3 linked regions of the Homo sapiens genome follow. The protein of the gene in region 2 purifies or fractionates together with the protein of the main gene of each other region. This does not show direct contact. Each region holds a gene or a part of one and is shown on either strand. Other genes may lie near its edges. The genes, in order: CDK5RAP2, KIF20A and NUMA1.

What was found.
Region 1: the proteins of KIF20A (region 2) and CDK5RAP2 purify together in Homo sapiens (affinity purification with mass spectrometry; 2 studies listed by BioGRID and IntAct, with this or other methods). This does not show direct contact.
Region 3: the proteins of KIF20A (region 2) and NUMA1 purify together in Homo sapiens (affinity purification with mass spectrometry; 2 studies listed by BioGRID and IntAct, with this or other methods). This does not show direct contact.

Annotation. Positions count from the first base shown.
Region 1 is NC_000009.12:120,402,143-120,405,790, reverse strand, and holds part of CDK5RAP2 (CDK5 regulatory subunit-associated protein 2), read left to right. Parts: intron 1-1,677; coding exon 1,678-1,755; intron 1,756-2,719; coding exon 2,720-2,985; intron 2,986-3,648. UniProt on the Homo sapiens protein: Potential regulator of CDK5 activity via its interaction with CDK5R1. Negative regulator of centriole disengagement (licensing) which maintains centriole engagement and cohesion. Involved in regulation of mitotic spindle orientation.
Region 2 is NC_000005.10:138,181,996-138,185,199, reverse strand, and holds part of KIF20A (kinesin-like protein KIF20A), read right to left. Parts: intron 2,878-3,204; coding exon 2,739-2,877; intron 2,615-2,738; coding exon 2,427-2,614; intron 2,340-2,426; coding exon 2,210-2,339; intron 2,032-2,209; coding exon 1,837-2,031; intron 1,731-1,836; coding exon 1,619-1,730; intron 1,513-1,618; coding exon 1,444-1,512; intron 1,239-1,443; coding exon 1,095-1,238; intron 962-1,094; coding exon 796-961; intron 689-795; coding exon 524-688; intron 394-523; coding exon 254-393; intron 106-253; coding exon 3-105; intron 1-2. UniProt on the Homo sapiens protein: Mitotic kinesin required for chromosome passenger complex (CPC)-mediated cytokinesis. Following phosphorylation by PLK1, involved in recruitment of PLK1 to the central spindle. Interacts with guanosine triphosphate (GTP)-bound forms of RAB6A and RAB6B.
Region 3 is NC_000011.10:72,018,011-72,021,658, reverse strand, and holds part of NUMA1 (nuclear mitotic apparatus protein 1), read left to right. Parts: intron 1-367; coding exon 368-455; intron 456-739; exon of another isoform or gene 740-1,333; intron 1,334-2,041; coding exon 2,042-2,165; intron 2,166-2,649; exon of another isoform or gene 2,650-2,678; coding exon 2,679-2,836; intron 2,837-3,145; coding exon 3,146-3,263; intron 3,264-3,358; coding exon 3,359-3,476; exon of another isoform or gene 3,477-3,648. UniProt on the Homo sapiens protein: Microtubule (MT)-binding protein that plays a role in the formation and maintenance of the spindle poles and the alignement and the segregation of chromosomes during mitotic cell division.

The sequences.
Region 1 (3,648 bases), on a different chromosome or scaffold from region 2:
TGATTTATTAAAGTGGTCTCTGATTTGGAGCCATAATAGACATCAATGTTAATATGCTTTTTGCTGTTAAATAATATTCTTAGGAGAAAACCCTACAAGGGGAACCTCATAAGTTTGGAAAGGTGCCATATTGCCACCTTCTAAATAGTCTGTACATCAGCAGTGTACAAAGGTAGTGGTTTTTGTGTGACCTCAGCATTGGGCATTACTATTTTCAACACGGGTCTGCACCTGGCCCTTTTTAAGGCTTTGAGGAGATGGGATTCAGGAACTTGTGGGGTAGGCTAGGGGAGTTTGAAGCAGGGAGAACAGTTCTGTGCTTGGGGTACCCAGGAAGGAGAGTTGGGTAGCTGAAGTGAGGAGGCCATCAAACAGCCTTTACCTGCTTTTGAAATTTGCCGAAAGCAGCCCTCATCATGCCTGGCAAGAGGCATCCAGGAGAGCATTCAGAATTCACAGTGCTGCCTCAGCAGAAAAGTTTTATAATTTCCTTGAGTCAAGATCAGAATTATAGGCAGCAGCATTTCTTCCTTTGCAAAAGACTTCTCAGGTCTGTATTTAAGTGCATCTGTTTTAAAAATTCTGTTCTAAAGGCTGATGTCTTTCACTGAGAGTGATTCCTCTTGGGGCCAGCTCTATGGAGCTGACCTCCTGGCTCCTTGGCCTTAGGAACTGTAGCACACCCCTGGGAAATGCTGGAGTGCAGTCAGCCCACCGCCCAGTGGTGCAGGAGCTCGGAAGGGGGATCCTAAGCCCTAGGCTTCCTTGCTCTGTGCCACTGACATGCTGGGTTATGCTGGACAGATCACTTTCTATCTCTGCCCCTTGGTCTCCCCTTCCATGAAATCTGAATTACAGTGTGTTTTGCCCACTGAGCTATTGAGTCCAATAGCTTTTCATATGTGAAAGTGCTTTCCAAATTATAACGTGTTGCACAGGTCATCTGTACAGCATCTATTGGTTTTGCCTCCTTACAGTGTTGCAAATACATCACCCCCCAGATCCTATTGTGGGTTACTCTCATCTCTAGCTTAGGTTAGTGTGGCAGCCTCCAGACTTACTCTTTCAGTACAAAATACAGACCTCAGCTTGACATTGCCTTGCCCAAAGCCCTTGAGTGGGCCCCTCAGTCCTCTTGGTTCTGGCCTTGCATTCTACTTTGTCCTTCCCTGCACCCGGGCCTTGGGTCTATGAACTGCTTATTTCTCCCTGAGCGATGATTCCACTCTTTGTCCCACTGTCTGCCTCTCACCTGCCCATTGTGCTGCCTGGCATTTCTTTCCCTCCTTCTTACCATAGGTCAGTCACAATCAGTCTTAAAACATAAGGTTTTAAAACGGGTATTAGCCTTTGGGAAGCCAAGTTGGGGGTAGTGCCCCTCACCTGAGCCCCAACAGCCTGTGTTTCCCTCCCTTGTCCTTGATCACACTAAAATAAAATTGCTTATTTACTTTTCTGCTGAGAGTTTTTCTAGGGAATGGACTGGGCCTGGTCACTCTGTCTCCCTGGTGTCCCACAAAGGTGGGCTTGGCAGGACAGAGGCCCAGTGAAGATTTGAAGGAATGCTGTGTGTGTATGGATAAGTGAATGTGAGGGGCTTGACTGTATTCTCTTTCAGTTCTCTCTTGAATGCTGACAACAGTGAAACTAACAGTTCTCGTGTTTTGCATTTTGTAGATGGTGACAAATATCCCATGGAAAGTGATAATTCATTTGATCTGTTTGATTCCTCCCAGGCAGTGACACCAAAATCAGGTACAAAGCTGAAGTCCAGGTAACTGTGGGAGCATTGGATGTGACAGTAAGACTTTTTAACTTGCAGAAAAGGGGGGTCCCTGGTCCCAACTCAGGAGGGTATTTGGTAAGGATTTGGGATTTCAAGTTCTCAGCATCCCCAGCTGGTGATCTTCTCCTTCAAGCCAGTTAATCCACTCCTAGGTGTTACCAAGGTTAGAACATCATTGGGTCCCTCTTGCCTTAGATTAAAATTGTGACCACCTTTGTGAGGCTTTCAAGGCCCTCCAGGATCCAGCTCCAGTGGGTCCGTCCAGCCTTATCCCTTAACCTGGTGTAGCCACACAGGGGTCACCATCCTGCAGACAGGCCCACACTTTCCTCTCACTGTGACTTTTAGACCCCCTTTGTCCCACTCTTTGCCGGTAGAAGTCCCGTTTCCTCAAGACTCATCATGAATACACATTTCTCTGTGACATGCCTTTGCTGCTGTCCTTGGTCAGAATGACTCATCATTCGTGTAATTCTTGCTACTTGCTCAATCCAGTTCAAATGCTGCTCCTTCTCAGAAGCCTTCCCTGTTCTCTCCCTCCCTGCACAGATAATTGTTTTTTCTGGCTCTGGCCCTTCATCACTCTGCTGTTGCACCTTCTGCAGTGTCTGTGTTCTGATCAGACTGTGGGCTACTGGAATGCAGGCACCAGCTTGAGTCATCCTTGTGAATCTGGGGTCTTCTGCCGAGTGGGTGGTTGATAAGTGTTGGTTGAGTTGACTTGAGCCTCTCCTACAAGATGACTCATAAGCCCAGTGTGGGGTAATATACAGAGGTCCAGGAGCGTGCCTCTTTTCCCCTCTGGGCTTGTGTTGGGTGGCATTTGGGCACGAGGGCCTCTTCTAGCCCTCCTAGCTAGCTTCAACATCATAAGCGTCTTGAACGCAGAGTGTTACCTGAAACAGATTTTACATCCTACTTCTCATTTTACAGTTTCAGAGACTCCTCCACTCTCTGGGAATGACACGGACTCCCTCTCCTGCGACAGTGGCAGTTCGGCAACTAGCACTCCGTGTGTGTCCCGCCTGGTCACTGGCCACCACCTGTGGGCCAGCAAGAATGGCCGCCATGTCCTGGGCCTGATTGAGGACTATGAGGCCCTGCTCAAACAGATCAGCCAGGGACAGAGGCTCCTTGCTGAAATGGACATTCAAACCCAAGAGGCTCCCAGCTCCACAAGTCAAGAGCTGGGAACAAAGGTAACCTGACCACAGAGCTGGGGGGCACAAGCTGCTCCCTGGGAGTGTCGGTGGAAGGGGGAGGGGAGTCAAATGGCGCAGTTGTCCTCATTAGGACCCTGAGAAGAGGGACCAGGAAGTGTGGCCTCAGAGAGCTCAGAGGTCAGGTCCAGTGTGGGGAACTATTGGTGGTGGCTGTGTTTGGTGGGGTTTGTGCCTTGTGTTCCTGCAACTGCTCCATGGGCTCTGCTGTCTTGTTCCCATGACGGCCTCTGTACATCTGGTCTCTCATCCATTCTTCTCTCCATCTGCACCCTGGTGTGTCTGTCCATTCATCTGCCCATCCACCTGGCTGTCGCCCATTATGAAGTGGAATTACTAGTTCAAAGGTTGTGAACTTTTTAGGGCTCTTGATGATAACTGTTGCTCCATTACTTTGCAAAACAATTCTATCTCTGTTCATGAACGTTTGTCTCACTACATTTTTGTTTTTGTTGAGGTTTTGTTGTTGTTGTGTTTTTTTTATTTTGAGACAGGATCTAGCTCTGTCACCCAGGCTGGAGTGCAGTGGCGCGATCATGGCTCACTGTAGCTTCGACCCCACCTCCTAGGCTCAAGCAATCCTCCTGCCTCAGCCTCCCAAGTAGCTGTGACCACAGGCGTGTGCCATCACACCTGGCTTTT
Region 2 (3,204 bases):
ACCTGAATCTCTTCTTGGTAAAAACTTGTCAGTGACTCCTTGAGGATATTTAGTTTTTCTTCATACATTTCCTCCAATAGTTCCTTTTGGGTGTCCAAATGTTCACTGTCAGAAACAGAGGAGAAAAGAGAGGTAAGTGAAGGTTCTGAGGAGTGAACTTGGGGAACAGATCTTGAGGCACAACTCCACCTAACTCCTTACTTCCCACCCTCTGTCTCAGGTGACAGAGCAAGAGGGGTCACTCAGCTAGTACCTGCACCACTGTTCCCGCTGTTGCATCTGTTCTACCATCTCATTGCAAATTTCATCTCGGAGATGCATCTCCAGCTGTAGCTTTTCCTGTCGTTCCTTCAAAAGCAGTGTCTTCATGGCTTCCACAACTTGTAGGAGCTCCTAGGAGAGACACACATGTCAGAGGTCATCAGATGCTCATGCCCTCAGAAGGCACAAGCCCACCTGGAAGGCACCATGGAAAAATGTGTAGCTACTAAGCTGCTACACTAAAGCTTTCTTGTATTCTCACCTCTTTGCCATACATGGAGATGTCAGCTTCATTTTCAATATCATCATCAAGGCCTGTGTCTGCCTTAGCCCCTTTCTCTAAGCTGGGGGATACCTGAAGACTATGTTCCTTGATGAACGAGTGCAGGGATGGGAATCCCAGTTGCATAGGTGGGGCATGCACAAGCTAGAGGGAAAAAAAATATCTTACTTGACTCCATAAGTAGTCCCTAGGAGCTTTCTTAGAGTTACCAGTTCCAAGTGCGCACACCCATCACACCTCTAGCTTCTCACCTGGCTAGCAATGGCTGAGAACTTGGCCACATGAAGAGTTTCATCATAGGTAGATGCACAGGGATTCACATTGACAATCATGCAGGAACGGCCTCGGCCTGTGAAGAAACCTTGGAACACTCGAGTCAACTTGCTGTCACGGAAGGGAACCAGGTTCTGCTTTGACCTGGCAGAGAATCAGAGATAATAGAGCTGTGAGCAGAACACCAGCCCTTTGGGTATCCTAGCACCATCCCCAGTGGTGTCCAGGAAGTCTCTTAGCAAATTGCAGAGCCCAGGAATTATAGTCAAAAGCTCACCGGTTCTGCTGGTTTTGACGAAGGGCAGCAATACAGCGGCCCAGGGTGTGTAGAGAGGTGTTAATGTTTCCTGCTTCCTTCAACCGTTCACCACTCTTCTGATCTTTGCAGCGCTCTGAGCCAGCCAGATCACAGAGTGACAGCCTAGAATGATGCACAGGATCTGACATAAGGGCCTCACATGTTATGAGCCTTCTGGCCCTTTGTATAATTCTGGAGAGGGGACGGCCCACTAAGAATCTCTGTACCCAAAGAAGGAGAACACATAGTTCCCCTGAGGACCTCCTCCATGCTTTCCCAACTATCATTTATGGCCAAGAAGCCCAAATTTCTAAATGGATAAACTTACTCGCTGATCTTGGGGACTATATCTCCTTCCCCCTGAAGGTGTAGGATCCTGATTGAGAAGATGCTGTGACTGGAAGTTAAGAAAAACAAAAAGTCATTGCACATTTTCCATGACCAGGCAGAGGACTAATGTTTCCTGGAACACAGTGAAGAGTTTATTCTTACAATCTACTCACCTGCGGCTGGAGTTCTGGTTGAGGTGGGTGCTGGCAAAGCTCTGGTTCTTACGACCCACTTTTAGGAGCTTCCAGGCCTCCTCAGCATCTTGCACATGAATCCAGTTGAGATCTGGGGCCAAAGGAGAGGGGTGTAAGATGGGAACATCCAACTCTTTTGCCAGTCTCTCCCCAGTTGCCCTCCAGGGTTCATGCCAGCTTTCCCCATGTTCCTTTACCTTTCACATAGGGATTGCCATTTTGATCCTCGCATAGCCGCAAAGTCTGCCTCTTGCGCTGTTGGCTAGGCGGTTCTAATAGGTCATAAAGCAGTTCGTTGTAGATCTCAAAGAATGAGATCCAGATGGAGAAGCGAATGTTTGCCGGGACAGGTAGTGGGGCAGTGTCTGGCTGTGCCCATCGATGACTTGTTTCTGGAGAAGAAGCCAATGTATAGGGCATCAACCTAGAGCAGTTCACCTCTCTTTTGGCCTGCAGGGGCCTTGGAAGGCAGACCTTAGATTGCAACCTCTGGTCTGTACTCCTGGCAGCTATTAGGAACAGGGAGTGAGTTCCTACTATTTTTTGGCAGAGCCCAGTCACGGTACATACCATCCAGCTGGCTACTGCTGGTACACTGACTGATAGAAGAGAGCCCAGCAATGCCACTGTCGAAGCTGGTGCTGGTACCTATCCGACTTTCGATGTAGACACTCCTCTTCAAGGAAGTGGACAGCTCCTCCTGGAGGGGCACAGGGAGAAGGTAAGCACAAAACTTCCCCGAGATTTGTACCCCCTACCCCCACTGCCATGGATACCAATGCTTTACCTCTTGGAGGCCTCCATTTAGCAGGGACAGCTTCTTCATTTCCTCCTGTCGGATCTGCTTGCTGTCTAGCCAGATTACCTCATTGGAGAGCAAGGGCTTCAGATCAGGTGTTGGATGAAGTTGGCCTTGGAGGCTATTGAAGATCAGCGCCAGGGACCGGGGGAGAATCCCTCCATCCTTGATGGTACCTGGAGGCATATGAAAGATGGACAGCTGAGGCAAGTGCCCTTCTCCCCCTAACTCAGAGTCTCAAAAGGTAAAAACAACACCATTACCAGCCAATCAGGAATCCCGTGAAGGCTTACTACTCACCTTGAATCGTGTGGGTTTTCCCTGAGTTAGTGACTCCATATGTATAGATGAGCCAGTTCTGCCCTTTGAGTACATCCTTTACCATCTCCTTCACAGTTAGGTTGAAGAAGGATGCCTGTCCCACTTCTGGCCCAAAGATCTAGAGAGAGACCCAGTTTTTTAGAGGCCTCTCCTTCATCTCCCACTTGCCTCCTGTGCAGAGCCAGCAGATATATTCCTTCCTGAGTGGTTGGCTCTGGAGACCACTCAAGCAGCTTCTTCCTGCAATGCTGCTGGCTGTTCCCTAAACACTGAGGACTCAAGCACTCTCTGCTAGTCCATCTTTCCACCAAATCAACAAACACTTAAGGAATGCTATGCCCTAGGCCTGATGCTGCACACACAATGGGGCAATATAATGGCCCACAAGTATGGGCTTTGGAGATACATGGATCTAGACTCAGGTCCTAACTCTACTAGTGACTAG
Region 3 (3,648 bases), on a different chromosome or scaffold from region 2:
TCCAGCCTGGGTGACAGAGCAAGATCTTGTTTCTTAACAACAATAACAATAAAAGCAACTTTCTGATTGTGTTACTTTCCTTAACAGTCACTTCACTTGTGGTCAGGAGTTAAGTCAGTCAGGAACTCTGACTTCGGTACATCTTGAGGGGAGGTGGGAGGGAAGGGGACAAGTGGGGTGAACATATCTCTAGTTGAATGTTGTTGGCTGGGTCATAGGACCTCAGCTCTGAGAGGGAGAATGGGATCCAGCAGGCTCCTAGGGCATGAGGGAGCCGGGGACTGGCACTGCCAGGGTGGAGCTCCTGGCAGCCATCCCTTCAGAGGCCTAACACCTAAGTGATGCTCTTTTTCTCCCTGTGGCCCAGGCTGAGTTGGCTGTCATTCTTAAATTTGTGCTGGACCATGAGGACGGGCTAAACCTTAATGAGGACCTAGAGAACTTCCTACAGAAAGGTAAGTAGGTACACACTCCTGAGAATCCCCTCATCTCTGAAATGGGGAATACTAGGATCCTGAGTTGTCAAGTATGGTGGGGGTTTGTTTCTGTCCCCAACACAAGGCAGAGTTGATGCTCAGGAAAAGTGTGTGTAATGGAGTAGGTCGATTTCTGGGCCATGTTGTATCATCTCAGTTCCTATGGAGCTCCTCCTTGCTGCCTGGCAGCAGTTATGTAGGATATTTACAAGTGATCATACCTACTTTTGTTTTTTATTTTTTAAACAATCATTACTCTAGGCTTAGAAGCTGAGAATACAGTCTTTTTATTTTTATTTTTATTTTTTTTTGAGACAGAGTCTCTCTCTGTCGCCCAGGCTGGAGTGTAGTGGTGCGATCTCAGCTCACTGCAATCTCCACTTCCCGTGTTCAAGCAATTCTCCTGCTTAGCCTCCCGAGTAGCTGGGATTACAGGCGCATGCCACCACACCTGGCTAATTTTTGTATTTTTTGTAGAGACGGGGTTTCACCATGTTGATTAGGCTGGTCTCGAACTCCTGACATCAGGTGATCCACCTGCCTCGGCCTCCCAAAGTGTTAGGAATACAGGCATGAGCCACTGCGCCCGGCCCACAGTCTTTTAAAAAATGTTTTTCCCGTCATGTAGTGCATGTTCTAGGTGGAAAGGCAGATACATAAACCAGGAAATAATGATAAGGAATCTAAGTACGGAATATATCAATGGCCTCGGCTGGTACTACAGTAGAAAGAGTGATCGTTCTGCTGGTCTTCTGATGAAGAGGTCAGCTGGTGGATGATAGGAATGTAAGAAGGAGGTCTAGGCGAGTTCTAGCCGTTGAGTTTGATGTTCCTTGTATTCAGGTTCCTCATGAGACCTTCAGGTGGAGATGTTAGAAATGTGAGTCCAGAATTCAGGAGCAGGCTCTGGACCAGAAGATAGGTTTGCAAGTCAGCATTGGATGGCCACTGAAGCCGTGGGCACTATGGGCAGAGCCAAGAGGCCCCATCAGATCTCTGGGAGCTTAGAGGGTGGGTAGAGGAGGGAGGAGCAGATGAGGAGACTTAAGAATGGGTGATTAGAGGTAGGAGAGTCCTACAAAAGGGGTCACGGAAACCACGGAAAGAGAAGGGTTTTGAGGAGGAGGGCATTTTGGAGGTGCAAGGCTTCAGGGGGGATGAATTCCAAATGGTGGCCAATGGCTCTGATAGGAAAGGTTGTTGGGGGCTGCAAGGAGATCCTGCTCAGGGCTCCCCAAGCCGTCTCTGCAGTGTGGACTCGAGGAAAAAGCTTGAGCACTTGGTGCAGTTTCTGAGCCAGAGGACACCGTCACTCCACTGTGCTCTGAGTAATGATGCTCTGTAGAAATGGAAGCCCTGCACTTCATTTTGGTTAGAGACACGGAACTCTGGATAACCCAGGCACCAGGTTTCAGGTTCTGCCCAGTGCCTTCCTTGGTAGTTTACATATAAGTATCCATGGATATACTCCCACTAAGGCGAGTTCTCAAATTGCATAAAGGTGCAAATCTTTACACCTTCTTACTAACCTTTGTTGATTTATTTTGTCTATTTCTTACCCCCAGCTCCTGTGCCTTCTACCTGTTCTAGCACATTCCCTGAAGAGCTCTCCCCACCTAGCCACCAGGCCAAGAGGGAGATTCGCTTCCTAGAGCTACAGAAGGTTGCCTCCTCTTCCAGTGGGAACAAGTATGTTCTGGGCCTCTCCTCCTGGGATAGGGCCTCAGCATCCATCCATTCCTCACATTCCTAACTTCTAGAGTTAAGATGTTAACCAGCCTCTGGGAGTGCTTAGAGTATCCGGTAGATCTGGGATCTCCTCACCTCACCCAGTATTAACTGGGGGAAGTGGTTGGGATTTGTCATGTGCAGAAGGCCTCCCTCAAAAGCTGTTCCCTGTTTATGGAATACCCTTCTTCCTCGGAGACTACAATGAAGTCTCTTCTCTTAGCACATCTCTGCAGAGCCAAGGAGAATATATCACTTTTTTTTTTTCTGACAAAGAAATTAAGGCAGTGAGAAGAAAAGTTTTCCCAAGATCATGTCATGAGGCTTGAGGTAGCACTGCAAACAACCCAGGTGCACAGGCCTCCCAGCTGCTAGTGCGCACTTCCATAGACCCCGCTCCCTTACTGCTGCCTGTTGCTGATTGCTTCAGATCTTAGGCGCTTACCAATGCATATGGGCCTTCTCCCTCCTCAGCTTTCTCTCAGGTTCTCCAGCTTCTCCCATGGGTGATATCCTGCAGACCCCACAGTTCCAGATGAGACGGCTGAAGAAGCAGCTTGCTGATGAGAGAAGTAATAGGGATGAGCTGGAGCTGGAGCTAGCTGAGAACCGCAAGCTCCTCACCGAGAAGGGTAGGTGGCTGGCACACTGGCAGATGTGTGAATAGACTTGCCGGAAGGATGTCCCCTGGCCTCCCATGTTGTCCCCTCTGCTGGCCCCTGGAGCTGAGAGCTCAGCCCTGGGCCTGTGGTCAGGCTGACCTCCTGGAAGCTAGGTTCTGTCTTTGTCCCCATCTTCTCTTTCCCTTAGATTGGATACCATATTCCTCCTCTTCCCTATGCCGTCTCCTCCCTTCCCCTTGTGCACATAGTTCTGTGCACATAGTTCCGCTCATGCACATAGTTCTGATTCTCCTCTCCTCCTCCCTCCACTCTGGGCAGATGCACAGATAGCCATGATGCAGCAGCGCATTGACCGCCTAGCCCTGCTGAATGAGAAGCAGGCGGCCAGCCCACTGGAGCCCAAGGAGCTTGAGGAGCTGCGTGACAAGAATGAGAGGTACAGCTCTCCCTGCATTCCTTCCCAGGCCCCAGCCCCTCCCCTCACCCAGCCAGGAACCCATACTCTCTTCTCACTGCTTCCCTCCCTCGCAGCCTTACCATGCGGCTGCATGAAACCCTGAAGCAGTGCCAGGACCTGAAGACAGAGAAGAGCCAGATGGATCGCAAAATCAACCAGCTTTCGGAGGAGAATGGAGACCTTTCCTTTAAGGTGGGTGTTAAGGTGGTGTGTGCATGGAGGCCCCTCAGGGCTGAGGTGGTCTGGAAGGCTCCCCAAGAGAGGGTTGAGAAGAATGTCCCAGCACCTGTCTTATGCTTCAGTCTCTCCAGAGACCTGCATATTTTGCCCCTTTCCTTATCCCATAATTGGCGGCTTCCCGGGT